Homo sapiens: one gene and its partners. The protein of the gene in region 1 interacts with the protein of each later gene in a pairwise test. Each region holds a gene or a part of one and is shown on either strand. Other genes may lie near its edges. The genes, in order: TBC1D21, GAS2, PDCD2 and SEPTIN2.

Region 1 (7,026 bases):
AGTGACTTTTTATAAACAAATTCAACCACGGCAAAGTAGGCAGATGGCCAATTGTTACAGGTAGAGGTTTAGAAATGCAAATTCTCTGAATACTCAACAGATGTCTTCTTGTGATGTTTCTAATTATTTCTGCCTTATTGCGTTGATGCTGTATCTTTTGTTACGGTGTGCGGTGCATATTACTTTAATTTCAATATTACCTCTCCATTGTGTTTGACTTTTTTTCGTATCTTTGTTCGTCATTTATTTTTTAATCATTGTAGGGCATTTGATTTTAAGGTATTTCTTTTGTTCACAGCTTGTGTAAGATACATATTTTTTATTTGAGTGGAAAATCCTTGCCTTTTAATTCCTTCCCACTGCCCCTCCCACCCCCAGCATGGCATTAGGGTTAAGCCTCTGACTGTTGCATCAAACAGCTTAGGGTTCAAACTCCAGCTCTGATACTTTCTGTATCTAATCTCAGATATGCTAATTAACCCTCCTGTGGTCTCAGTTCCCTGATCTGTAAAACAGTACAAGAACTTTACCACTTCATAGATATTTGCGAAGATTAAATGGGTTGATATATGTAAAGTGCTTAGAACAGTGTCTGGCACATCATCAATTGCTTTTTAATGTTTACAGCTAATAAGAGAATGAAATGCATTTATTTTCATAATTAATTGCTTTGGGTTTCTATCATTTTTATGCTTTATACTTTTATTAATTCCTTGTTGTTTCCTATATTGCTTGCTTTTATTTTTTAAAGTGAGTTGGAAGATGTCCTGTTCCTATAAATTCCTAATTTTTAAAGTAAAAAATAAAGCAATTTCTTTTGACTCCATCCTAATATCTAATAAAGAAATAGAATCTGCAATTAAAAACTTTCCCACAAAGAAAACTTTAGCCCAGATGGCTTCACTGGTTCTACCAAATATTTTAAAAAGAAATAATACCAATTCTATACAAACACTTCCAGAAAACTAAAAAAAAAAAAAAAAAAAAAAAAAAAAAAAAAAAAGAAATCCCTACTCATTTTATGAGGCCAACATTACCCTGATACCAAAATTAGAGATCTTACAAGAAAAGAAACTCACAGGCAAATGATTCTTGTGAACATGGATGCAAAAATTCTAAATAAAATTTTAGCAAATAGAATACAACAATGTATAAAAAGCATAGTATATCATCACCAAGTGGGGCTTATCCCAGGAATGTGAGGCTTACTTACCATTCAAAAGTACTCAATATAATTTACCATACTAACAAACTCAAAAAAAGAAAACCATATGACCATTTCAACAGATGCAGAACATTATTTGACAAAATCCAACATCCATTCCTAATTAAAAACTCTCAGCATGCTAGAACTGGAAGGGACTGTCTTCAACCTGATAAAAGGCATCTGTAGAAAGCCTAGAGTTCACATCATACTGAACTGTGAAAGCCTGAATGCTGCTCCTCTAAGATGAGGAACAAAGCAAGAATGTCTTCTCTCACCACGTTTATTCAACATTGCACTTGAGTTCTAGCCAGTGCAGTAAAACAAGAAAAAATAAATAAAAGGTATTCATACTTGAAAGGAAGAAGTTAAACTGCCTTTACTCACAGATGAACATGCTCATCTATGTCAGAGTTGGCAAATTTTTTCTGCAAAGGTCACAATAGAATTTTTGGCTTTATGTCCACGCAGTCTCTGTTGCAACTACTCAACTCTGCCATCATAGCATGAAAACAGCCACAGACAAAAATGAGTGGGTGTGGCTGTATCCTAATAAAACTTTATTTAGAAAAACAGATTGGAGGCCACATTTGATCCATGGATCATAATTTGCTGACCCCTGGTCTATGTCAAAAATCCCATGGAATCCACAAGAAAGCCACTACGACTACTAAGTGAGTTTTACTAGGTTGCAGGAATACAAGATTGATATATAGAAGTACATTGTATTTCTATTAGAAATTTAAATTTTAAAATGATACTTTTTACAGTAGCATCTGAAATATGAAATACTTATGGATAAACTTGACAAAATATATGAATGACCTAGACACTGAAAACTACAAGACACTGCTGAGAGAAATTTTAAAAGACCTACATAAACAGAGAAATATATTGTGTTCACAGGTCAGAGGACTCAATAATGTCATCAATTCTCCCAAACTGGCTTACAGATTCAATACAGTCTCCACCAAAATCACAGCTGCCTTTATTATAGAAATGGACAAATTGACTAAAATCCTTATGGAAATGCATTTCTAAAGTTAAAGCATTTCCTTTTATAGTTAAGGATCCCGGGACACAGCCCAGCTTTGCCTGTTCCCTTCTGCTTCCTGCCACATTGCATGCTGAGTGTTGCAGTTTCTGAATGAGTGTAGGTTGGGAGAACATGATGACAATCAGAGGGGCAGAAAGCTTGCTCTGATGAGTGGCAGTGTCTATGCAGGTGGGGAACACATCAGGGCAGACCCTGCTTCCCAGGGTTAGGCCCACACCGAGATTTGTAACTTCTTGGCCCATGTGTCCTATTTTGGTTCAGATGACAGGGCATACATGAGTTATTAAAAATGTGTTTCTCAATCCATTTCCATCAAATATACAGTTAGTAGAAATTATCCCAATTTGGAGCCTGTAGGCTCTTATTTTTAGTTAACAATGCTGCTTTGCCTTCATTTATTTATTTATCTATTTATTTGAGAAGGAGCCTTGCTCTGTCACCCAGGCTGGAGTGCAGTGCCATGATCTTGGCTCACTGCAATCTCCGCCTCCCAGGTTCAAGCGATTCTTCTGCTTCAGCCTCCTGAGTAGCTGGGATTACAGGCACCCCGCCACCACACCCAGCTAATTTTTGTTTTTTGTTTTTTTTTAGTAGATATGGGGTTTTATCATGTTGGCCAGGCTGGTCTCGAACTCCTGACCTCAAGTGATCTGCCAGCTTGGGCCTTCCAAAGTGCTGGGATTACAGGCGTGAGCCACCATGCCTGGCCTGTTTTGCCTTCTAATACTTTACTACTCATGTGGTTTGTGGACTAGCAGCATCACCTGTTACTCAGGAGCTTGTTAGAAATGCATCATCTTGGGCCCCACCCCAAACCCTCTGAATCAACTCTGCACCTGCAGAAGATCCTTAAGTGATTTGTACGCCAATTTAATTTTGAGTCACATATTCAGATGTATACTAATGGGAAGTTGGGAGTGTGTATATTTACATGTCTACTCAGCTCTGTCCATCAGCACATCTTTATGTCTGCAATGTGGCATTTCAAGATATTCTTCTCTCCAGCAGAAGAGAGTATCCCAGGAAGAAAGGAATCTTCTCTTATTCCAACAGGAACCCTCACTCCTGTTGTTGTTGTTGTTGTTGTTGTTGTTGTTAGAGATATTATTATTATTATGTGCTCTGTTGCCCAGGCTGGAGTGCAGTGGTGAGATCTCGGCTGACTGCAACCTCTGCCTACCGGGTTCACGTAGTTCTCCTGCCTCAGCCTCCAGAGTAGCTGGGATTACCGGCATGCGCCACCATGCCTAGCTAATTTTTGTATTTTTAGTAGAGACAGGGTTTCACCATGTTGCCCCAGGCTGGTCTCGAACTGACCTCAAGTGATCCACCTGCCTTGGCCTCCCAAAGTGCTGGGATTACAAGCATGAGCCACTGCACCTGACCCTAGTTATTATTTTATAAGCATTTTGAATTACTTTGCATGCAGTGCACTCACCTCTCTCCAACACATACACACACACATGTTCACATACACATAGCACACAGATATATACCACACACACACACACACACACACACCCTTATCAAAAGCAGAGACTATCTCTCATAATGAACCATTCTACATTTCCAGGAAAGGTAAAGTGGAGCTCATAACTGTGTCTAATTAATGCTTATTTTATATTTTCCTGTGATCAAAGCAGTGTACATTATTATAGAAAATTTTAAAAATACAAGAAAGGCCAGGTGCGGTGACTAACGCCTGTAGTCCCAGCACTTTGGGAGGCTGAGGCAGGTGGATCACCTGAGGCCAAGAGATCAAGACCATCCTGGCCGACATGGTGAAACCCCCTCTCTACTAAAAATACAAAAATTAGTTGGGTGTGGTGGCGCGTGCCTATAGTCCCAGCTACTCAGGAAGCTGAAGCAGGAGAATCGCTTGAACCTGGGAGGCAGAGGTTGCAGTGAGCCGAGATCCACCACTGCACTCCAGCCTGGCGACAGAGTGAGACTCCGTCTCGAAAAATAAAAAATACAAGAAAAAGGATAAAAAGTACTTATTTCCTATCACTCAGAGATAATCACTGCTGTTTTTAGTGGGGGAGAGGAACTTTTTTGTATTTTCTCAGTCTTTTTCTAACAACTTTATAGTAGTCAATGCATTATATATTAGAGTTTATGTGGGGTATTATTATAATATATAACGGACACAATACATAGGTATTACTATGAGGGCCATAGTTGTACTATATAGTACATAGAGAAAATGCTAGATATACAATTCTGTATTCTGCTTTTTTCTGTTAACATTTGTATTTTTTCTGATTATTATTCATTCCTTGTAAACAACACTTATATGCCTCAAAATATTCCATTAAGCACATAAACCACAGTTTACTTAACTACCCCCTTATTGCAGAACATTTAGAGTGCTTGCATTTTTCATGTTGGTGAGTAATGTGCATGAAAATTATTGTGCATACAGGATTTTTTCTATATATTTTCAGTAATGTCCTCAAGATAGATTTCCGAAGTAAGTCAGGCTGTGCGCTTTGATACATATTGCAAAGTCCAGAACATATTATTTAAAATCACACTTAAAAGCCGAAGCCTTCTAACATAAGGCAGAACTGGTTGCTGCTTTTGCCAGGTGAAGAGAAAACCACCCATTGACAAGACAGAATGGGACAGCTTCTTTGATGAGAGTGGCCACTTGGCCAAATCACGGGACTTCATTTGTGTTAACATCCTGGAAAGGGTGGGTCCCCAAGCTACCCTTGGCCTTGCCCTGGAACTGGGAGCATGGATGGGCAGGGGGCAGGTGTGGCGTTGGATGAAGCCCTTTTGGTAGGCATCGATAGAGCCCATGACCTCCACCTCCCACCCCCACCCCAGGGTCTGCACCCCTTCGTGAGGACTGAAGCCTGGAAATTCCTCACGGGCTACTTCTCATGGCAGAGTTCCCAGGATGAGCGGCTCACGGTGGACAGCATGAGGAGGTAGAACACTCCAGACCCTGCTGGGACAGGAGGGGGGCCTGCAGGTGGCAGGTGCTGCCTCCCCAGCCTGCAGACTATCTTCTGCCCCCATGCAACTTCTTATTCCGAGAGGAACCCCATGCCTCCTGACCCAGGCACAGCACACAGGAGGTGCGGCCAGTTCGTGCCAGTGCCTTCTCTCCCTGAGCTCCATTTACCAGCCCATCAACTGCCAGGCATGGGCTTGGTCCCAGCCACTCCTCTTACCCCTGGGCCCCAAGTCCCATCCTTCCTTATGGCCTATGCATTCTTCCTCTGAAGCAGCCCTTGAACAGAGTCTGCCACCCTCTTCCCTGGGTGCCACCCCAACTCCACCTCCTCCCTGCCCCCCATGGCTGAGCTGCCTCCCGGGTCTAGTCTCCCCACTCCCTGCCTGTGCCCACTGTTTCCTCCCGGTGCCCAGGGGAAGGTACAAAACCCAGTATGGGCTGCCTGTGTCCTTAGATGAAACACTCCCAGTGGTGTAACTGGTAACGTTTCAAATAGCACATCTTCTCTTCCAAAAACTTCCTGATCCTAGCTCCACATCGCCCACTATCCCAGAGCCTGACATTCCAACCACACTGACAGCCTCACTGACTCCTCATCTGCCCACTCCTGCCCCAGCACAGACCACGTTTGCACTCCCCTCTGTCCTTGGTTCACCCTTTCTCCTCCCTCCACAATGGCTTTCTATCATCTGCCTATCAGTAGCCCACCCTTCCTTCAAGGCCCAGATCCCACAGTATACCTACTCCAAGCAGCCCTCCCAGATCTCCCAAGGGAGCCAGGGATGAGGCACTTTGTTTCAGTAGATAACACACCATCTTTGAACTTGGACCGTCTTGGATTTGGAAACCGGGTTCAAATTTCAGCACTCTGATTTACACCCTGGGTAAACTTGCCCATGAACTTCAGTGCTGAAGTCTCAGTCTCCTCCTCTATAAAATGCAGGTAACAATCTATTTCACAGAGTGGTTGTGGGGGCTCAATCAGATAATACAGGTAAGGCACCTTGCACAGGGGAGGAATCAGTAGCTTTTATGATTTTGATGGGAATCCTCCCTCCCTGAAGCCGGAGGCCCTTGACTTGCACTTCCATGACCCTGGGCACTTGGTCCCACAGTAGTGAGAACGGAGCCTGTGTCTTCCCTCCCAGGTTGAATGCAAACAAGGGCAGAGGCTGCAGCCAGTTTGCCTTTGTCTTGGGCCCTCTCCTGACCTTGCCTGTCCATGGGAGGGCTCCGTACACACTGGCTGAGTCAGACTGACTCCACTGCTGAAAATCTTCCCATCAGAGGAACGGACTCCTTTGGATTGTGGCTGCATGACTATGTAGCCTGGGCTGGACTCACCTGTCTGGGAGCCTGAAGCAGGGGCTAGGCCCAGCCCCAAGGGAGCATCCAGACAGAATGTGGAAAAGATTCACGTGTCGGGGCCAGCCAGAGTGACCCGGGGTGGGACGGGGGTGTGAGGGCTGGGCTAGGGAGCTCAGAGAGGTTCAGGAGCTCTGACAAGAGCCCACCTGTGTTCATTTCCTGAGGCTGCCTTAGCAAGTACCACAAACTGGGTGGCTTCCGACAACAGAAACCTGTCTTCTCGCAGTTCTGGAGCCAGAAGCCCAAAATCAAGGTGTTGGCTCCTTCCAAAGGCTCTAGGGTAGAACCCTTCCTTACCTCCCAGCTTGTGTGGCTCCCGGTGTTCCTCAGCTGGTGGCTGCCTCACTCCATTCCCTGTCCCCATGGTGGTGAGACCTTCTGCTTTCTGTGTGTTATAAGAACACATGTCATTGGATTTGGGGTCCACCT
Region 2 (7,065 bases), on another chromosome or scaffold:
ATTATTAAAAGTATCCTACTCAGCTCTTGTGATCCTTAATTTAGTGTAGTGCTGACTCTCTTTTAGAGATCTCTTTCTTATCCCACAGTCCCATCTTGATTTGTCTTGGGTGAAATGATGGTGTAGTTACAAATAACAATTTCTTCTCAAATCATGATTTAAAAAAACCTGAATGGGAATTGATTTTCTATATTTTCATGTTGTTAGGGATATTTTAAAGTTTTAAAGAAATCATACTAAAACATCCTTCCAAACAATTTAGCATAGGTTTTTTTAACCCCTACCAGATTAGCTTGGAACATAATTAAAATAGAAAACCATCTGACAGTCTAATGACAGTCTAATGACTATTGTTAACAATATTAACAACTAGAATATTTAAGGATTTACATCAAAATTTTATCTAAGTTGAGAAAATTCTTTTCTGTTGTTTTAATATAAAGATTTCTGTTTTAGTTAACTATAATGTAGTTAAGAACCAGCAGGGTTCTACATTCTGTGGAAATATATACACATATGTGACATGGTCTCACATAAAGGAGTAAAATTAGCAAAGTTTTAATTGTATTGATGCTGAAAACATTTAATACAGAAACTTACATAAGCCTCTTACTTAATTTTGACAGCAGATTATTTTCTACTGTTACTCCAGTTCATTTCTCTAGTCAAAAAACATTGAGTGGAAACCTTCCTAGTTGCTCAGGTTTAAAGAAACAGTTGGATCCTGTTTGGACCTTAATATCAAAACCACAAAGATACCAAACCAACCTTACAACATGCCCTGCAGTTTTAAACAAAAGTCTCTCTGTAAACAGTTACAGCCTCATCATGCCTTCTCAACCAAGGTAACTTAGTTTTCCAAAGTTTCCCTGAGTCTTCAATGCAGACTTCCAGTCTTGAAGTAAGATTTCTAAGTAACACACAACATACTTAGGGTTAATATAAGACCAGGTATTTCACCATACTCGAAAGTTTGAGGTTTAACTGAAGTTTCTAACCAAGATGCTAAAAAATTCCAGGGCAATCACATGACCTTTTGCACCTGGTGAAATATTTTTTTGCCATGTGAACTTATTTCCCAGTAAAGCACAGTCCATAACACCACAGCATAGTGTTTAGCAATAAAGTAATGAAATAAACCCAAACTTCAGTAGCATTCAGGCTGAAATCCAAGCTACCTTTTCCATGTAAGGGACCATTCAGGCAGCCCTGTGCAAAGTCTCCAATGTGCTTTGCAAAGGCACACTGTCCCATGCCTCATCCATCTGTCCCTTACCTTCTCTTAGGCAGTCAAAACCCAGACACCCATGTTGGAGAGAACCACCAGAGCCACCACCTTCACCGCAGTTAGAGGAAAGCATTCCTTGAGAAGGAGTTCATTGATCAATATCAAAGACAGGCTGGGCAAATCAGACCCCAGCTGCAGTTAATCAGTGTCCACACTGCTAAGAGTTTGGAGTAAAGAAGCACAGGTCTTGTTCTCTGCCTTGCCTCTGTGAATCTCAGGGGATACGTGGGGAGGAAAAGTGGACTTCCTCTGCCAGGCTGGTACATCCAAACTGTCTAAGCCTTTATTTTAATACTAGGATGTCAAATGGGTGTTCCTGTGCACAAGCAGATCTTATTTCCTTGGCATAAGATCTCTCATACACAACTGATCTAACCTTGTTGGAGAGGGTTGGAGGAGATAATTTTATAAGAATAAAGTTTTGCAAACTCTTCACTGTAAGAAGATCACGGAGGTGAGAGGATGAAGATGAAGAAGATGGAGAGGGTAAAGACTGTGATTTCAAAAAGGTTAACTGGGAAAAGAATTAACAACCCTCCCCCAACCTCAATTGTTTTTAGAATGTAGAAACAGAATCTGTTAACCCTCGCTTTTGCTCCCTCTTCATTCAAGACAATGGAAACTTCTTCGGATACCTGGGCTAAGTTAATGGTAATTTACCATACTGAGTTGACAGAATTTAATTTTGCCAGTATAAATAATGTCTCCAAAGCAAAATTGCCTCCTTTGTTCCCCAAACAATTTCAGATTCCAGTCTCAACTTTGGACTGAACAAAAAGAACGATACCACGCAAAATCTCCCCAAAGTGTGTTGATATATATCGGCTAGCGTTTGTTTATTCACATAAAACTCAATTTCATCAAACTCATCAGACACAGTGAGTATCACCCCAGATCACACATGTGGCGCTCTTTCCTCCCATCCTGGCCTCAACGACTCAAGTAAAACATTCAGGATCAGCCCTTTAAGACCATTCTGGCTCTATCCCACCCCACCATAACAGACAATGCTGAGCATGCATTACAGATACTCTTGTGCACGAATGCATATGTGTGCATTTATAATCGATGTGTTCATTAAAAATCCTCACTCTGTCCCTGGTTGGCAGAGCCACCCCAGCGGGCTTACGTGCTGCGGTTGTCCGGGGTGTTCCGCAATAGGGATAAGGAACACATGGTTGTTTCCAGAGAATCAGAAAGTCACCCCCTGCAGTGAATACCCACTCTTAGAGAAAGAGCCTGTCCAACTGTCCGCGGCTCTTCACTCTTCCCCGCCTCGTTCCTGAGGTTATTTTTTAATGACCTCTCCCCTCCCCCGCCGCCCCGGGTGCAGTAGACAGGCAGGGGCTCCCGTGAGCCCCGGCTGCGGTGCGCGCACGCTGCGGCGGCGTTGGCGCAGAACTGGGCCAGCCAGTCGTGCTCACCCCCGCGTCCCGAGCTGGGCTGCTGGCGGCTCTCAGAGGCGCTTGGGCTCCGGGCTGGGCTCCTGCAGCTTCTCGGGGCCGGCCCCCTCCAGGCACAGGTCCTGCAGCAGCCGCTCCCCGCACCCCACCAGCCTGGCGGCAGCGGCAGCAGCTACAGCCGCACTACCCCTCTTCATACTTCTCTGATGGCTCCTTTTAGTGCTGTTTGGGAAAACGATTTTTTCTCCCTGCCAGAAACAGATTTCCTACATTTCATCAGTCCTCATAGACCGAGCGGAAGTAAAATGCTTACTTTTTTTGGTGGACGCAAATGCAGTTGACACTGATTTACCCTTCAAACGGGGAGAGATTGTATTACAAGCCCTTGGCAGCAATTCCGAGGTTGGGGCCAAGCTCCAGCCCCCTCCTTGTCCCCCAGACACTAACCTAAGAGAGAAAAGGTGGGGGCTGGGGAGGGGATCATATTTAACTCTAGAGGTTTAACAGAGTCAATAGCTTTAGCACAATATTAAAATTGGGTGTTGGAAAAGTTTTTGCTTTCCTGGCCAGTGATTTTGCAGACGGAGGCACGAGCTTTCCAGTAACTTCGGCCACTCTTCATTCCAAATTGAACATTTTGATGTCTTACAATTCTCTTTAAATATCAGATTTTTAGAAGAGGCTGTACTCACGGCTGTTTTTGCTTTACCAAAGGAAATACAATTCCACCCTTCCTTCTTTCAGCCTCAGCTCAGCATTATGTTGAATGTCAGAGACAATTGTCTCCAACTGTTGTTTATTAGTACGTGTATTCTGAGATGAAACGTCTTCCATGAAGTGGACAGATGTTCAAGTGTCTGATTCACCTCTAATGCGCGGGGACCGCTTGCTGAGTGTGCTGATCCCCACAGGTTACCACCTCCCATGGAGCATAAATAAAATGTATTACACTTTTTATTTTGTTTTGTTCTCATGTTCATCAGTTTCATGTATATTGCCATCCAATGTTTACAATGGCAGTGGTACAGGTATTGTGATCCTTGCTTGGATACCATTTTTATAATGATGAGTTACCTAGCCCCACTCCCAAATAGAAACTACCTGTACATCCACAAGCTAAATGATGTGGATGATTTTAGATATAATTTAAAAAATATTCACATTTCACCTTTATTATTGCCATTATCTGGCAGAAACTGCATCAGTTATTTGCTTCTAGTGGCAATACATTTAATAAAGAAGAAGAGAAAACCGATTGAAAAGTTTGGAGTCCTTGAACTCCGAACTTTTTATTTTAGTTCAATTTGCTTTTGCAGCTATCAGGTCCACATTTCCTCCTTAGCTTTCTAAAAGAAGGGAAAAATAGTTATTCTTAATTTTAAGGAGAAACAGCATTTTTAAAAGGTCAACATAACAGCTTGGATAAACATAAATAACAACAAAACATACAGAACTCATTACTGATGAGTTTTAGTAAACGAATCTGAATGATAAAATTTCTTAAAATGTGATCAGATCTGAGTATTCCTAGAGCCCCAACAAAGAATTTTGAGTGTCTGAACACATACAATTTAGTAAAAAATCAAATGTTCTTGATAATTTTTCCTGATCAAAACATCATCAGCCAATAAATGCTAATTTAAGAATTATCCAAATATGTAATGAGTTCAAAAAATTTAGCACCTTGAACTTTCAAAATCTTACATCCTATTTCTCCCCAGATATGAATATTCTTGTCACATTGTTCATTATTGGTGTTATAAAAAGCTAAGAGTAAGGCAATGTTTTTGTTGATTCAGGAACAATGCTAAATACAGTTTGGGGAAAAAAAGGAGGCTTACAGAGGAATTGGGAAAGCATAATCATTCAAAATTACTCCCTCTCCATGCTCATTTCTTCCAGGTATTTTTTTTTTTGTCTTAAATTTTGCATTATGTCAGATCCTCTGTCTCTCAGAAAGAGCGAAAAGAAAAATACGAGAAGAAATAAATAATGTGTTTTTTCTTTCATTAACATCTAAGAGTTGTACTGAATATTTTTTTTGGTGACAAAAGAGAAGTAATACAAAAGATTTCTGAAGAGACACGGATACAGTGTTTTTATTTTAATTTTTTTAGCATATGTAAAAATTCCCATTTGATTTTTATCTTGTTTTTCAAAATCAATATTTCTATTTATATATTCTGATCACTCACTGATATATTTGTCAAAGATAATCTTTTGTCTAAGTATTTTCTTAGTTTAGTGTGGACTCAACCCAAACTGTTCACCTTAGGAAAATGTAGTCCAACTGAAGCAACTATAGCTTCTCTAATGTGAATGCAAAGGAAGCAAATACTTCAATAAGATGAAAAATGTTTAAATACATCCTTGAAACTTAACACCATTAAAAAGAAGTCAAGCCAGATTTAAACAGTTTAGTTTTTATTTTCAAGTGATCACAGTTAGAGGACTTTAACACGGGAAATTTCTGCATTACTATGTGTGTCCCACATTCTAAACTTTCAACATTGTCTCAAACATGAATTTTCTCATTTCTCTAATAAATACTTTTTTGAGTTTAAAAATGATCAATAAAACACGTTATTTTTCCCTCCTATGTAGATAACTCTCCTTTTCTCTCTTAGTCCTTCTCCCAAATGAAAATAATATATGTAGTACTCACTCTGAAAAGTGAAGCAAACCTTCAATAAATGATTGAGGTTAGAGGACACTTTGAGAAAAAATTAAATAACACGGAAACAGCCACTGGGTTAAATTTGGTAAAATAAATTTCCAGAAGTGACCAAGAAAGACTTATATTCCTAAACAGCTTCAAAGGAGCAGTTAAAAATGACAAAAGACAGCTTGGGAAGCAAGTGAGAATAATGATACAGAAAGCAGTATGAAGACATGCAATGGTATTAAAAAATACATGAAGACATATATTTAATAATAACTTAAATCATTTACTTACATTTTGTTGACATACTTCCTCAGTGAGGTCAAATATGTTTATTTTTCCCAACCTAGCATCTTAGTCTATAATATAAGGCCTTCAATTGACATATTTTGAATTATAGTTTTTTAATGTCATAAGGCAAAGAGAATAAATTTTATAAATCCTAGCATAGTCATTACAAATAGTGTTACGAATAAAAACAGACTGTTTCTGAAATTTTAAACGATAAATGCTATTACTTTTCACCACCATTCATATATAAAACTACAAGGATAAATCAAAGAAATTTCATATGTAAAGTTCAAGGTTTACTCTCCATCTAATATGCAATTTAAAAAATCTATTACTTTACTCTCAGTGGAGAACTTTAAACTTTTTAAGTACAACACAACAGTAGCATAAATATTAATTCCCTCCTGTGCAAGACTCATTTTTTTCTGGCAAATTGTGTTAGGTATAAGCATATGTTTTCTAATTTTTACATAAGAAATAGATTAAAAATCATTTTGTGAAATATGCCATTTGTCTTATCTACTTTTATTCATTTATTTTTTATTTTTTTATTTTTTTTTTTGAGAAGGGCTATTGCAGTGGCGTTGCCATGGCTTACTGCAGCCTTGACCTTCAGGCTCTAGCTATCCTCCCATCTCAGTGTCACGGTAGGTGGGACCACAAGTGAGCACCACTGATATGGTTTGGCTCTATGTCCCCATTCAAATTTCATCTAGAATTGTAATCCCCAAATGTTGAGAGAGGGACCTGGTGGGAGGTGACTGGATCATGGGGTCCGTTTCCCGCATGCTGTTCTCATGATAGTGAGGGAGTTCTCACAAGACCTAATGGTTTTAAAAGGGTGGCACTTCCCCTCTCTCTTTCTCTCTCTCCTGCTGCCATGTAAGACATGCCGTGCTGCCCCTTTGCCTTTCCCCATGATTGTAAGTTTCCTGAGGCCTCCCCAGCCATGCAGAACTGTGAGTCAATTAAACCTCTTTTCTTTATAAATGACCCAGTCTCAGGTAGTTCTTTATAGCACAGTGAAAACAGACTAACACAGCCACCAACTGTGGCTAATTTTTTATTTTTATTTTTTTTTTTTTTGCAGAGACACGGTCCCACTATGTTGCCCAGGGACACAGTCCCACTATGTTGCCCAGGCTAGTCTCAAACTCCTGGCCTCACATGATGCCCTACCCCAACCCTCCAAAGTTTCTGGGTTAGAGGCATGAGCCACCACACCCTGCCTCATCTAGTTTTAAATATCCTATGCAGTACCTTCTGTGGTGTGACGTCTGTTGTCTAAGTTGAAGGTGTTTTTTTTTTAAGTTTTCTTTCTTTCTTTATCTTGTAGTTTGCTTCTAAATCTTAAAAAAGTCTATGTCATGTTACTTTAATCACAAGTACCTCAAGTATAATATAAATGTTTAATGTAAAAT
Region 3 (7,568 bases), on another chromosome or scaffold:
GTAGACACAATCAACATTATCTTCCTCCTACGCCCAACATCTCAGTTCTCAGTAACACCAACATAATTACTCGTTTCCTTTCCCCCCAATACACACACAACCATCTCAAAATAAAAGCAACAGTCTAGTAATAACATGTTTATTCAAAATACTAACACTGTTACATTCTTTTCATTCTCAGGGCATATTCTACTAGAGATGTACTGTCCTATGTTTTGAAGTCACCTGGAAGAGTTCTTAGTGTGGTTATATGACTACATCAAGAGTTTTTTACTTTTGATGATTAGGGACTGCTTTTTAAAACTTACTTTACTCCATAATCTTAAAATACTCATACAGTTCCACAGTCACATTTACACTAACAAGGCATATTTGAAGTCCAGCTTTCATCCTTGATCCTGCTACTCTAGGCTCTCCTTTCTCCTAAAGATAAGCATTTTCATTATGTATCATGTTTATCGTATAGGCATGAACACACGCGCGGCCCCTTCCAGGCAGTCTTCAGTGATGTCACGTGTTCCCATGGCACCTGTATTGTACTCTTATCAGTCATTATATGGACTTTAACTTCCCCAGATATTATTTGGGCTCCTCCATAAGACTGTGAGCATCTGACCACTGGAGTGTTGCTTCCCATTATATCCCTGTTATCAAGCACAAGGTCAGGCACAGAGTAAGACTCAAAACATGTTTTGGAATGTATGACTGGTATGAACTACAAACCAGTAAGCTGATGTTTTCATTTTGAGTCTATAAATCTAATTTTGTGGTGGTTTTGTGTATGGCTCAAGGCTCAAATTGTAAAATTTAATATTATGTGACCAAAGAAAGTTATACCCAGAACCTCAATTTCCTCACCTTCAAAATGGGGCAGTTTCTCACTCATTGGTCTGCTGTCACGATTTTAATGAGCTCATGCACAAACAGCCCTTTATATAAGGTAAGTGCTGGATAAATGTTGGCTACTATAATAAAATAAGCCTCTAAGATACTTGGTCAGCACAAGTACTACCCAAGAGTATGCACTGTAAGTAAACTGACAAAATTGTGTATCTAAAACTGGCCAGATGAAAGAGAAACTTTTAAGGGGCCCTTCTGCGTGCCCGACACTGTGCTAGGCACTCACACTATCCCGACCCGAGAAACCGATCTGCGACCCAGAGGAACTTACCAAGCCTCCAGCATCTTGTGCAGCCCTACTCATGGGACCATCTGGATACCCACCCTTGTCTTTACAGGGAGCAGAACACACCTCTTATGTGTCAGAAAACAAAGTCCAGGAAGTATATTTTTACCTGAGGCAATATCTGAAAATTGTATGCTACAGCCTCCAAAGTGAGTCTTCCTCTCAGTACCTCTCTTCTAGGCACATGGAGCCCTTTCTTCCAAGTATTATGTTTAACCACTTAATGAATGAAGTCCTGAAACTGCTTACCCATGCTCCCTATAATCTCTGAGTAATCTTCCTTTTCCACAACCTCAGGCATAATCTCATCTTCTGTTTCTATTACAATTTCAAATTCTGGAAAAAGGAAGTTGTGGTCTGGAATTATATGGTCCAGATGATCTGAAACAAAAAGGACAGCACTATTAGTAATCATTTAGTTTTGAAGACAGTCTAATAATTTGCTGTCTCTAAAGTACTATATTCCCTATAGTTCTGGCATTTTAGATAAAGGGTCATAAATTAAATGCCTATATGGTGACATTATTCAGTGATTCAGACTTCACAGCCTTTTTTTTTTTTTTACAAAGGTGTTCCAGGCATGAAAAATTTTAAAGTACTATACCTTTCCTAATTTTACCTTTAAAGTTGTCCTGGAAATATCTGGGTTGACAAAGGCGATGAAACTGAACTGAGACTTAAAAAAAAGATTACCCACCTGGTTGTGCACAAGCCTGCTTATGTCCCAATCTCCAGTCTAGGGTCTGATGCTCCTTGCTGCAGTAATATGCTTTGTGGCATCTGGAGCACGTTTTGGGGCCTAAACAGCCACAAACCCTGCAGAGATGAGCACCAGACTTAAGCTGGAGACACACTGATTCTCCTGTTTCTGGGGGAGGATTCTCAGAAGGTGGCTCATATGAGTAAAAATCGTTTTTCCTGGGTAGTTGATTCCTAAAAACTAAAAAAGAATACAGAGAAAAGTTTTATCTTCAAACAAAACAGCAATTCACATATTTTATCCTCTGCACGTAAAACTGAAAATAACAACAACAAAAAAGAAATGAAAGTTTTTGCTTTCAGGAATAAGCTTTTAAAATCCAGAAACTAGATTTCGTCCGGTACACGCAACTGAGTTGCCTCCTAGAGGTGGTTTGAGTTAATCAAATTAATAAGACTGATCGTTAAGAACGACTGCCAAAAATACGAAAAAGCTACTGGGATCCATCTTTCCAAGACAATTTCTATTATCTGAATTAACACCATACCTGGTACCCACTGATTAAAAGCTGGGGGTTACCAATGCGCGTGGGCACAGTTAGAAGCTTATGTAGCAAAAATGAGCACATCCTGGAAGGGCCCGGGAGAAGGTGCTCCTGGGGCAGCGCGGAGAGGGAGCTCTGAGGCTGGGGCGGCAGCGGTGCTTGCCGCCGTCCCCCTGGTCGCTCCCGGAATTAACGCCGCGCACGCGTCGGAGGCATGGCCCCGTCCCGACCCCGTTTGGCGGCTCACCTCGCAGGCCGGCACAGCACGGCTGCTCGCGGCAGCAGAAGAGGAAGATGCAGCGGTGGAAGGCGTCCGGGCGGCCAGGCAGCGGCGCATACACCTGCAGCAGGAAGGAGAGCGGGCGGCCGCACAGCTCGCAGGCCAGGGCCTGGGGCCCCGGCAGCCCGGCCGCGCCCAGCCATGCCGGCCGCCCGCCCACCTTGCTGGGGAACTGCTCGCTGCGCAGTCGCCACGCCGGCGCCGACTCGGCGAAGCCCAGCTCCACAGGCCTGGCCCCGGCGGCAGCCATGCGGGGCGCGGGCTGGCGTGGGGCGCAGCCCACAGCTGGGTCGGAAGGCGGAAATCGGGCGCCGGGCCGGAAGGCAAGAGGCGGGCACCTTTCCGGAGGACAGGAGGCGGAAACGCGTCTGACGGGAGCGGTTGCAGGACCAATGCGAGGGAACGGGGCAGAGGAAACCTCTCGGCATCAGCCCCGCCCCTGGCGCCTCTGCCTCCGAGCCGCTTTCCTGGTGCCTCCGGGTGCTCTGGGATGGTTCTGGTCTTTGGGAGAGTGGCAGCTGGTGACGGCGCTCCGCTCACCTCTGCACATGTCTTGCTGTGGGCCTGCGGGTGGCCGCCAGGGAGGCAGAGCCCTCCCGCAAACCTTCCCTGCTGGTGTCCACCTCAGGGTGTGGGAAACCTGTGCGCTGGCCGAGTGCTAACCAAGAGTAGGCAGTGAAAGACAAATGAAGGTTGAACAGGTAAAGTGAGGACCCTACAGCGGAAACCAAGAATCCTGTGTGCCTGAGAGTAATGAAGAAGCCTCTGCAGAAGAGTCTTTTCTGTCAGTCTTAAGGTCTCTGTTTTAATGTTAGTGCTGGCTTGCTGTACCTGAATTCCAAGGGAGGAGTGTATAATGAGGCATGGCCAACCCCCACTTCCCATCATTGCCTGAACTAGTTTTTCAGGTTAACTTCAGAATGCCCTTGGGCAAGCAGAGGGTCCATCAGTCGGTTGGAGGGTTTAGAATTTTACTGTTGGTTTGCAAAGGTCTGAAAGAAACATGTACCACCTGTTCTCTTTAAGGAGTTCTACTTAGGAGGTTTCATTTACATAACAAGACCGTGGTTGTCAGCCAGGTCTCCACCCGCATAACCTGTTATGCCACAATCCAAACCCCCATTCTGTAACCTCAAGATGGTATATAAGTTTCTGAACCCCATTTGGGGCTTCAGCAAAATCACTCTGGTTCTCCCCCATGTGCATGTTAATAAATTTGTATGCCCTTTCTCCAATTAATGTGCCTTTTGTCAGTTGACTTTTCAGTGAACCTTCAGAGGACAAAAAGGAAGCTTTCCCTTGGCTACTACAGTGGCTTTAATGGAAGTAAAGTCATCAACAACATTTATTTTTGACAAAATCACAGTTTAGTTGGCAGTATATTTGTTTGTTTTTGTTTTATTTGAGATGGAGTCTCGCTCTGTCGCCCAGGCTGGAGAGCAATGGTGCGATCTCGGCTCACTGCAACCTCCGCCTCCCGAGTTCAAGCATTCTCCTGCCTCAGCCTCCCGAGCAGCTGGGTAGCAGTATATTTGTAATGGTACATAAAATAATGTCTGTTTTTAAATAAACATTTACATTGTAAACCAAAAGTTAACTCTCCATCAATTTTTTTTTTTCTTTTTTGAGATGGCATCTTGCTCTGTCACCCAGGCTGGAGGAGTGCAGTGGCATGATCTCGGCTCACTGCAACCTTCGCCTCCCAGGCAAGCGATCCTCTTGCCTCAGCCTCCTGAGCAGCTGGAATTATAGGTGTGTGCCAATACAACCAGCTAATTTTCGTATCTTTGGTAGAGACAGAGTTTCACCATGTTGGCCAGGCTTGTCTCGAATTCCTGACCTCAGTTGATCTGTCCGTCTCAGCTTCCCAAAGTGCTGGGATTACAGGCATGAGCCACCACATCCGGCATCCATCAATTTAGAAAGTTTATTTCACCAAGATTAAGGTTGCACCCGTGACACAGCCTCAGAAGGCCCTGATGACCATGTGCCCTTGGTGGTCAGGGTACAGCTTGCTTTTATACATGTTAGGGAGACATGAGACATCAATCAGTATGTGTAAGATGTACTTTAGTCAGGTAAAGCGGGACTTGAGGTGAGGGCTTCCAGGTCATGAGTAGATAAGAGGCAAAAGATCGCATTTTTTTGAGTCCTTGATCAGCCTTCCACTGAATACACAATTTAGTCTGGCTCAGTGAATTATCATTTTTACGTAAACAATAGGGGAGGGGAAGCAATTAGATATGCATTTGTCTCAGGCGCACCTTAAAGGGATAACTTTGAGTTCTGTCTGTCCTTTATCCACAAGGAATTTCCTTGTGGGCAAATTTTAAGGGAGGTACGTAGCCTCTTATCTTGGCAGCTATCTTATTTAGGAATAGAATGGGAGGCAGGTTTGCCTGACATAGTTTCCAGCTTGACTTTACCCTTTGGTTTAGTGATTTTGTGGTCCTGAGTTTTATTTTCCTTTCACAGAAATTATACCGTAAAAGTAATTGAAGAAAATCACTTCTTTCCCCTTCCCTCAACTAGGCCTTGACCATTTTAAATAAAATCAGGATTTGCTGAAGGTCAACAAATTTAACCAAGTTCAGTTAAAACTTAACTCTGAATCTGTATGTCCCTGGGGTCTTTTCCAGTGAGAGATGTCTAAGCATCATTCCAAGCTTTTCTATACTAACTGGCCTATTTGTATGTTTCTTATTTTAGGATTCCTTTTGTTCATGTGTATTTTTATTAGGCAATCACCCATTTCCTGTAGGTTTCCAGGTTAATATATTTTTCTTATTGGAATTTTAATTTATCCTCTCTAGTTTTCTACATATTTTTTTTTTCTTTGAGACGAGGTCTCATATGTTGCCCCGGTTGGCCTCAAACTCCTGGGCTTAAGCAATCCTCCCACCTTGGCCTCCCAAAGTGCTGGGATTATAGGTGTGAATTACTGTACCCAGCCTAGAATCCTTAGTCCTATATACTTTTGCTGTTTTTTTCATTGCCAACTTGAAATAATAAAAAGGGTCAGAATCCTATAAACCAAAAATAAAATAAGGCCCCCCAACCCTCTGAATGGACTTCCTCCTCTGACACAGATCTTTTACAATTTAACCTGTATGAACCCCAAAAATTGGAGACAGGTCTCAGTTAATTTAGAAAATTTATCTTGCGAAGGTCAAGGACACACGATTATGACAGCCTCAGGAGGTCCTGACGACATGTACCTAAGATAGTCAGAGCACAGGGTGGTTTTATACATTTTAGGGAGATATAAGACATCAATCAACATATGTAAAATGAATATTGGTCAGGAAAGGTGGGACAACTCAAAGAAAAAATGGGACAACTCGAAGTGGGGAGGGGCTTCCAGGTCACAGGTAGGTGAGAGACAAATGGTTGCACTCTTTTGAGTTTCTGATTCACCTTTCTAAAAGAGGCAGTCAGACATGCATTTATCTCAGTGAGCAGAGGGATGACTGAATGGAATGGGAAGCAGGTTTGCCCTAAGCAGTTCCCAGCTTGACTTTTCCCATTAGCTTAGTGATTATGGGATTCCAAGGTAATTTCCTTTCACATTTCCCCCCTTTTCTTTTTTAAAATATTTTGGAGAAAGCATTTTTGAAGAAAATAAGTTTCTGTTCCCAGGTTTTATCTGCTCTCTCATGGCTAGGATGGTTTTTTCCTAGAAGGGTAGGTCCTGAGTTATTAGGAAAGCTCATTTTTAGAAGGTTGTGAAGTCTAATATCCTATCAAGAGAAAATTTGGGGAGGAAGGGAGAACAATAAGAACAATCTTGGAAAATTGATCTAGGCCACATTACTCTGAAGTCCATACATCAGTAAGCAGGTATGAAAGTGGCTTATGTATGTAAATAGGTTCCCATTATTTTCTTCTGAAGTTTAAGTTGTCTACTTCAGTTCACAGGGCTTCACGAAAGTTAGTTTTAAGTGACTTAGTTTAGTGACAGCTTAGTTTTAAGTGACTCCAAATTAGGAAAAATGGGGAAAAAAAGAAGGAAAAAAATTGAAAACATTATTTTGAAGACTTGTAGCCCACAAAAATTAGAATTTGGTCCAAACTGTAGAAAATGATAAAAATTGAAAAACATTAGGCAAGACTAGAATCTAACAACTGGTGGACTATAGTTTTCCAGTCTCTAGTTTCCCATTTATACTAAAGACAAATCATGATAGGTTTGCCTTATTATATTTGGCCGAATTATTTGTATACAGTGCAGCAAGAATAATTATTTTTTAACATTGGCTTTTAAATTGGCTTTGATGGAACTTTGTTCCATAGAGGGTATTTCAGATAAGACTTTTTAAAAGCTGAGCCCAGCCATGGATTTGTGCCATCAAATACCTGTGAGTTTGGTGATCCTCTCCTCTTGAGGTTCCAAGATAAACTTGAGGCTCCTGGGCCTGTCAGAAAGTGACATTCTTTACTTACCACAGGTCAGGAACCCTGTACAGGAGCTGTGTAGACAAAGTTATGAGGACGGTTTTTCCAAGGGGGTTTAATTGGCTCCGTAAGTCAAGTAAAAGCATTGGTAAACAACCAGTTTCCCCAATTGTGTCCTGTTACAAATGAAAACAGATTATTAGTGCACTTATGCAAATAACTGTATTGTCATAAGTTAAGAATACTTACAGTTTCCAAATTCTGGAGAAATCGGGTAGAGAGAACCAAATGTGCTCCAAATTTTGTTCATAGGAGTATGTGTTACTCAATTGTTAAAAGCTGCAGATAGCCTGACCAACATGGTGAAACCCTGTCTCTACTAAAAATACAAAAAATAGCCAGGCATGGTGGTGCGCACCTGTACTCCCAGCTACTTGGGAGGCTGAGGCAGGAGAATCACTTG
Region 4 (7,026 bases), on another chromosome or scaffold:
TAAGATATAATCAGTTAGACATGAAACAAACATAGGTTATCAGTTTTCACAAATTTTTTAAAAAGTATAAACACTTCCAGAAGGTCATACTTCTATCAGAAAACCAGTAGTATTCAACTAGGAGCATTAAAAAAAGAAAAACTTATCTAGTATAACTCCTTAGTTGTATGCGACTGAAAATTAACATTTTGTTAATCAGTATTCTGTTTAGGAATTTAACAATACATAGAAGATACATGCTTAATACATCTTAATGCAATTTCAAATTTCGACTTGAGAGACTATGGAGTTCCAGGAAAATCAGTCAAGCTTACAAAGTACTGCTACAGCTGACAGTACTTTGAATGAATGGTTTCATTCAACAAACTTGGCTAAAGAATAGCTTCTCCCAGGTATTAGGTGCAATGCATTTCTGAAAAGTATCGAGGAAAAAAGCATCTCTCTTGCTGTGCTTCTAGCTCTATAGAACAGAGTTTCATCAAGGGTGAGGCAGGCAAATTAGGGGTGGGATGTTGAGTATCTAGTGTCAAAGACCAAGAAAGAAAAGACAGAATGAGAAGATCATAGATGACTACACTGAAGCATCAATATTCCTTGACAGAAGGGTATCTGATGAGAGAGAGGACAGAGATATGAGAAGGCAAGAATAGCAGAAGTAACCAGAATCTAGACAGTGGCATACTGAAAATGAGAAGAAATTTTAAAAATCAATTTATTAATTGAAAAAGGCAAGATACAAAATAGTATTTCCTTTAGGATTACATTTTGTAAATGTATAGTCAAATGCACACACAGGTGAAAAAGAATATATGTAACATATTAACAGTGGTTATTCCTGAGTGGTGAAATAATGACTTTTTTTTTTGCTTATCTGTGTTCCATGCTAACACTGGTATAAAATGCAAAAACTGGTATGATGATTTTGCATTGGACAGTAATGAACACCCACAGGATTCAAAGATAAAAAAAAAACAGAAATAATAATCTTGCAATGTTAACCACAAGTTCTGCTTTTCTCAGAATATGTTCTTTAGCACTAATTTATCTCTGAACTAACTTGCAAAGGCTGATTTAAACCAATTTATCAAGTCTAAGAGCCCCATCAATTTCATCATAATAAATTATCAGAATTCTAAATTATCTGGTCTGCTGGGAATGAACTAAGGGGGCCAAAAGGACTGTTACTGATGTGTGTAGAGAAAAGAAAGTAGAAGCCTGAAAAAAGAGAAAGCTCCAAGCTTTTAAGATGACAATTAGGCCAGGCACGGTGGCTCACACCTGTAATCCCAACACTTCGGGGGGCCAAAGCGGGTGGATCACGAGGTCAACAGATCAAGGCCATCCTGGCCAACACGGTGAAACCCCGAATTTACTAAAATCCAAAAAATTAGCCAGCGTGGTGGCACGTGTCTGCAGTCCCAGCTACTCCGGAGGCTGAGCCAGGGGAATCGCTTGAACGTGGGAGGCAGAAGTTGCAGTGAGCTGAGATCATGCCACTGCACTCCAGCCTGGTGACAGAACAAGACTCCCGTCTCAAAAAAAAAAAAAAAAAGACAACTAAATTAGAACTCTTTGTGTTAATGAATCAAATGTATCAGTTGTATTAAAAATAATGAATCATATAAGTCCCGACTGTCAACAGTCTGAAAACATAAAGCAATTTCTCCTTATGCTGTAGATACATGAAGTATGATCTTACCTTAGACATCTTTTGTGAAGCTTCGTCTGTTAAAAAAAAAACACACAGACACACATAAACGCACATACATAGTATGTATGTATACGCACGTATATTTAACAGCGTGAACTGACCTGAAGAAGACTTACACATACATAGGCAATGTAAAAAGAAAATACAATTTCAGGACCTTCCAAATGCATTAGGCCAAAGGGAAAAGTTAAGCACTGACAGCTGGCTCGTGTAACATCACTACTTTTATTCTTTCTGACTTTTGTGTTTAGATGTATATATTAACCAGACCCCCTATTCTTTATTCAAAACTAGACTAAATGACTGGGAGATGAGAGATCCTTATGACTGTTACTTCTTTACAAAAGGAAGTTAAACAAATCCCTTCAAGTGTAATCAATAGTAGCCAATCAAATTTGTATCTTTAAATGAGCCTTAGTTCCGAAAATGTTATAATTCTGTTTGGCACCTCCATTTTGCCTATATAAACAATCCTCATTTTTCCCCACCCTGGGAGCGCTAATCACCATTCTTTGGTGTAGCTCGCTTACACTCTGTACTTAAATGAATTCTTTTAACTGAATCAGGAGCCTTTTGATTATTTTAGGTGACAGCATCTCAATTACTTCAAATATTTCCCTAGGAATAAGACAAGCATCTATCATTACAAAAATAAATTCGATTAAAAAAATTAGGCCAGACGTGATGCTCACGCCTGTAATTCCAGCACTTTGGGAGGCCGAGGTAGGCAGACCACTTGAGGTCAGGAGTTCAAGACCAGCCTGGCCAACATGGTGAAACCCCATCTCTACTAAAAATACTGATTCAGCCAGGCATGGTGGCGCTTGAGGTCAGGAGTTCAAGACCAGCCTGGCCAACATGGTGAAACCCCGTCTCTACTAAAAATACTGATTCAGCCAGGCGTGGTGGTGCGTGCCTGTGATCCCAGCTACTCAGAAGGCTGAGACAGGAGAATCGCTTGAACCTGGGAGGCGGAGGTTGCAGTGAGCCGAGATCATGCCACTGCACTCCAACCTGGGCAACAGAGTGAGACTCCATTAAAAAAAAAAAAAAAATTAGATGGTGGCTGGGTGCAGTGGCTGACGCCTGTAATCCCAGCAGTTTGGGAAGCAGAGGCAGGACTGCTTGAAGCCAAAAATTCAACACCAATCTGGGCAACATAGCAAAACCCTATCTCTACAAAAAATTAAAAAATTAAAAAAATTTTTAAGTTGATAAAAGCAACTGTATATATATATGTACGCACATATTCCATATTTTCAATAATATTCAAATTTTTTTTCAGTACTGACTATATGTTAGACACTAGGGACACAAATGGGATACACACGGATACATACTTCCCTGACCTCTGGAATTATGTCATTTCCCCTCTCTCTTTGAAACCTTTCAAGGAGTAAGGGACTTCATTACATAGAGCACTGTAACTTGAACATGTTTGCCACCCACTGGAGTTTCCTAGAGCTACCTGAGAACTAGATTTTGACACTGGGGTACAGAGAGCAATGTGAACTACATTTATGAGGAAAGGAAATAGTACTGAAGGCATCTGAGTGTCTGAAAAATGTGACAATATTTTTAAAGATATGTGGAATTTTTTTTTCTCTTTTCTTTTTTTTTTTTTGAGACGGAGTCTCGCATTGTCTCCCGGGCTGAAGTACAGTGGGTGATCTCAGCTCACTGCAACCTCCACCTCCTGGGTTCACGCCCTTCTCCTGCCTCAGCCTCCCGAGTAGCTGGGACTACAGGCGCCCGCCACCATGCCCGGCTAATTTTTTTTTAATTTTTAGTAGAGATGGGGTTTCACTGTGTTAGCCAGGATGGTCTCGATCTCCTGACCTCATGACCCGCCCGCCTCAGCCTCCCAAGGTGCTGGGATTACAGGTGTGAGCCACTGTGCCCAGCCAGAGATATGTGGAATTTTTAAACAAATTTTAGAAACCCTGAAGCTTTGGAAAGCATGGAGTCTGTTGGCTAACCTTCAGTAACAACCCCAAGAAAGATGACTGCTGTCAAATTTGGTTCCCTCTGGAGCTTAGAAACTTATTAAAAAGCTTCTCTCACTTTGCCTCTCGATTCCCCTCCCCCAAATCTTAACTTCCTGAATACTGTGTCCTCTGTTTCCCTTTTGACTGGAAATGTTCCCAGCTACTTTGGAAGAAATGAGATCCCTGCATCCCCAGTGTTATTTGGCTTGGTTAACCAAGGGATAGTAGCAGTAAGGTTCAAGAGCCTTTAATTTCAGCAAAACCTAAGAATTGAGAGCAAGTGTGAGTGTGGAGGAGTAGAACTTCCTAAAGGGAAAGAGAAGGGTCAGATGTAATACAGACAGTTTTGGCAGAAGGAGTTGGCATCTCGTTTTCAAATAATACAGAGATAAGTATCTGATTATGAAAGTAAAAAAAAAGGTAATCATTAAAGAAAATAACAATGAGAACTTCCAAATTAAGAGAAAAATATGGAGGAAACAGCAACTTCATCAAACCAGCAAAAATATGGAAAAGGAACAAGAAGAAACAAAATCAGAAGTAATCCTAAATCAAGACAATGGGGACAAAATTCAAGAATATCAGTTATCAGTATAAATGTGAAATAACCAAATTCTCTGCTTAAAGGAGAAGACAGATTGGCCTGAAAAACCAAGGGAAAAAAAAAACAAAAACAACAAACCGTCCAGCTATAACGTATATGCTTAAAGCAAAAGGAACAAAGAGAGGCTGAAAATAAAGGGACAAGGTAAAAAATAGCAGGCTAGTGCAAACATGGAGGAGAGACAACACTACTATCAGCCAAGGTGGGAATTAAAGTAAAAATAAGCAGAATAACAGGGATAACAAGCTATAATGATAAAAGAAACAATTTATAGGGAAGATGTAATATTCATAAGCCTGTATATTCAAATAATCACTGTAGATAAACACATAAAGCAAGGACTAGGAAAAATACAAACTTAAAAAAAAAAATTCAAGTGAGAAACTTTAATAGAGTTCTCTGAGAACCGGACAGATTCAGTAAACACAGTATGTGCAAGGACAGAGAAGAACTGAGTAATACAACAAATACATCTGATTTAGCAGACATAGAGAAATTTGAATCAATACCTTAAAAAATGTTTGAAGTCATGTATCTACCATAAAAAAAAGCCTAAACAAAATTTGAAAAACATTTTTACAGTCAATGTTCTCAAATAATTATCTGCTTAAATTGGGTGGAAAAAGATGAAAAGTAACTCCCAGTAATTTGTTACATTACTGGATATCCCCAGGATCAAGGAGGGTAACAAAAGCAAAGCCATAAGCAATCTCTAGAAAGCAATGGAAGGAAGATAAAAGCAAAACTTAGGAGATAAAACAGGAAATCAATAAAGAGAAAAAATGAATTATGAGGGGGGGAAAAAGAAGGGTAAACAAATCCAAAAGCTGGTTTTCTTTTTGTTTTTTGAGATGGAGTTTTGCTCTTGTTGCCCAGGCTGGAGTGCACTGGCGCGATCTCAGCTCACTACAACCTCTGCCTCCTGGATTCATGCAATTCTCCTGCCTCAGCCTCCGGAATAGCTGAGATTATAGGTGCCCGCCACCACGCCCAGCTAATTTTAGTATTTTTAGTAGAGATGGGGTCTCACCATGCTGGCCAGGTGAAACTTCCTGACCTCAGGTGATCCTCCCACCCTGGTTTCCCAAAGTGCTGGGATTACCGGCCTGAGCCACCGTGCTTGGCCGCAAAAGCTGGTTTTCTAAAACAAATTCCTCACAAGCCCAATTCAGGAAAAAATAGCAAATATAGAAAAGTAGCTAAAATAATGACAGAGAAGACTACATGTAGCAAAATGGCCCCAAATCTGAAAATGCAGAAAAAATGGGCACTGTAAATTACCAATACAGAACCAAAAACTGGAAAATCTGACTAAAACAAGTATCACTAAGCAGCTGATTAAAGACATACCAATGAAAAGGACCAAGACTTGACGTTAGAGTTGAACTCCATCTAACCTTGGACAAGACCAAAGTCATTTAACTATTCCAAGCCTCTACAGAGAAAAGGGAAAACAATTTGTTTTATGAAGACAGCACAGTTTTAATAACAAACCCAGATGGAGACATAAGAAAGGAACAAAGGAATGAATGAACGCCATAGGCCAATCTCACTCACAAATATAAATGCAAAAATCCTGAATACAATATTTGCTAGCAATTAGATTCCAGGAATGTATCAAAAGCATCTACCAATATTAATCCAACAACACAGTATAGGGGAAAAAAAATCATGCATTAATAGATGCTGATGAGGCATATGAAATTCAGCAACCAATCATAATGAAAACAGTAAGAAAACTGCTGGCAGAGTGTGGTGGCTCACGCCTGTAATACCAGCACTTTGGGAAGCTGAGGCAGGAGGAGCGCTTGAGCTCAGGAGTTCAAGACCAGTCTGGACAACATGGTGAAACACTGTCTCTACAAAAAATACAAAAAAATTAGCTGGGTGTGGTGGCGGGCACCCGTAATCCCAGCTAAGTGGGAGACTGAGGTGGGAGGATCCCTTGAGCCCAGGAGGTGAAGGCTGTAGTGAGCCGAGATGGTGCTGCTGCACTCCAGCCTGGGTGACAGAGTGAGACTGTCTCAAAAAAAGAAAAAAAGGAAAACTGCTTAAATCTAATTCAGGATATTTCTGAAAACCAAAGGCAAATACTGTTTTCTAAACAATAGAAAATTAAATCTATTTAAATTACAACCGATAATTCGGCAGGAATGCCCTTCCATAATTATTTTTAAGCACTTACATGAAAACTTTTACATGAAGACCTATACAAAAAGCAAACAAAACCCCCATGTGCTATCCATTATCCAGCTTCAACAATTAGCAACTGAAGGTCAATAATGTTTCATCTATTTCCACAATCATCAATGCCACTGCCTGGATGATTATGAAGCAAATACGAGATGTAACATTTCATTTATATTCCACTACACATATCTAAAAATAAGGGCTCCTAAAAATGACAAACCATTACACATAGCTAGTTCTTTAATGCAATCAAATATCCAATCAGTATTCATATTCTCTATTCTCTCATTTTTTTCATGTGAATCAAGATCCAAGTAAGATCCAGATATTGCAATTTCACCATGATTATTTAATACTACCTTGGTGAGTTTACTGAATATAATGAAACAAGAAAATCAAAAGAAAACACTTTTTTGCTGATTGGACTGAATACACAGAAAATACAAATACTCGGCTGGGTGCGGTAGCTCATGCCTGTAATCCCAGCATTTTGGGAGGCCAAGACGGGCATATCACGAGGTCAAAAGATTGAG

The links.
Region 2: the proteins of TBC1D21 (region 1) and GAS2 interact in binary tests that used the Homo sapiens proteins (3 or more experiments, as listed by UniProt).
Region 3: the proteins of TBC1D21 (region 1) and PDCD2 interact in binary tests that used the Homo sapiens proteins (3 or more experiments, as listed by UniProt).
Region 4: the proteins of TBC1D21 (region 1) and SEPTIN2 interact in binary tests that used the Homo sapiens proteins (3 or more experiments, as listed by UniProt).

The regions. Positions count from the first base shown.
Region 1 is NC_000015.10:73,876,548-73,883,573, forward strand, and holds part of TBC1D21 (TBC1 domain family member 21), read left to right. Parts: intron 1-4,851; coding exon 4,852-4,959; intron 4,960-5,096; coding exon 5,097-5,200; intron 5,201-7,026. UniProt on the Homo sapiens protein: Acts as a GTPase-activating protein for Rab family protein(s). Essential for the establishment of male fertility, and is required for both the production of normal sperm number and sperm function.
Region 2 is NC_000011.10:22,662,547-22,669,611, reverse strand, and holds the start of GAS2 (growth arrest-specific protein 2), read right to left. Parts: upstream 3,002-7,065; 5' UTR 2,713-3,001; exon of another isoform or gene 2,418-2,712; intron 1,505-2,417; exon of another isoform or gene 1,277-1,504; intron 917-1,276; exon of another isoform or gene 769-916; intron 1-768. UniProt on the Homo sapiens protein: Required to maintain microtubule bundles in inner ear supporting cells, affording them with mechanical stiffness to transmit sound energy through the cochlea.
Region 3 is NC_000006.12:170,581,622-170,589,189, forward strand, and holds the start of PDCD2 (programmed cell death protein 2), read right to left. Parts: upstream 3,017-7,568; 5' UTR 2,961-3,016; coding exon 2,678-2,960; intron 2,127-2,677; coding exon 1,884-2,126; intron 1,568-1,883; coding exon 1,436-1,567; coding exon of another isoform or gene 1,407-1,435; exon of another isoform or gene 645-1,406; coding exon of another isoform or gene 637-644; exon of another isoform or gene 1-636.
Region 4 is NC_000002.12:241,318,915-241,325,940, reverse strand, and holds part of SEPTIN2 (septin-2), read right to left. Parts: intron 5,739-7,026; exon of another isoform or gene 5,654-5,738; intron 1,726-5,653; coding exon of another isoform or gene 1,709-1,725; coding exon 1,700-1,708; intron 1-1,699.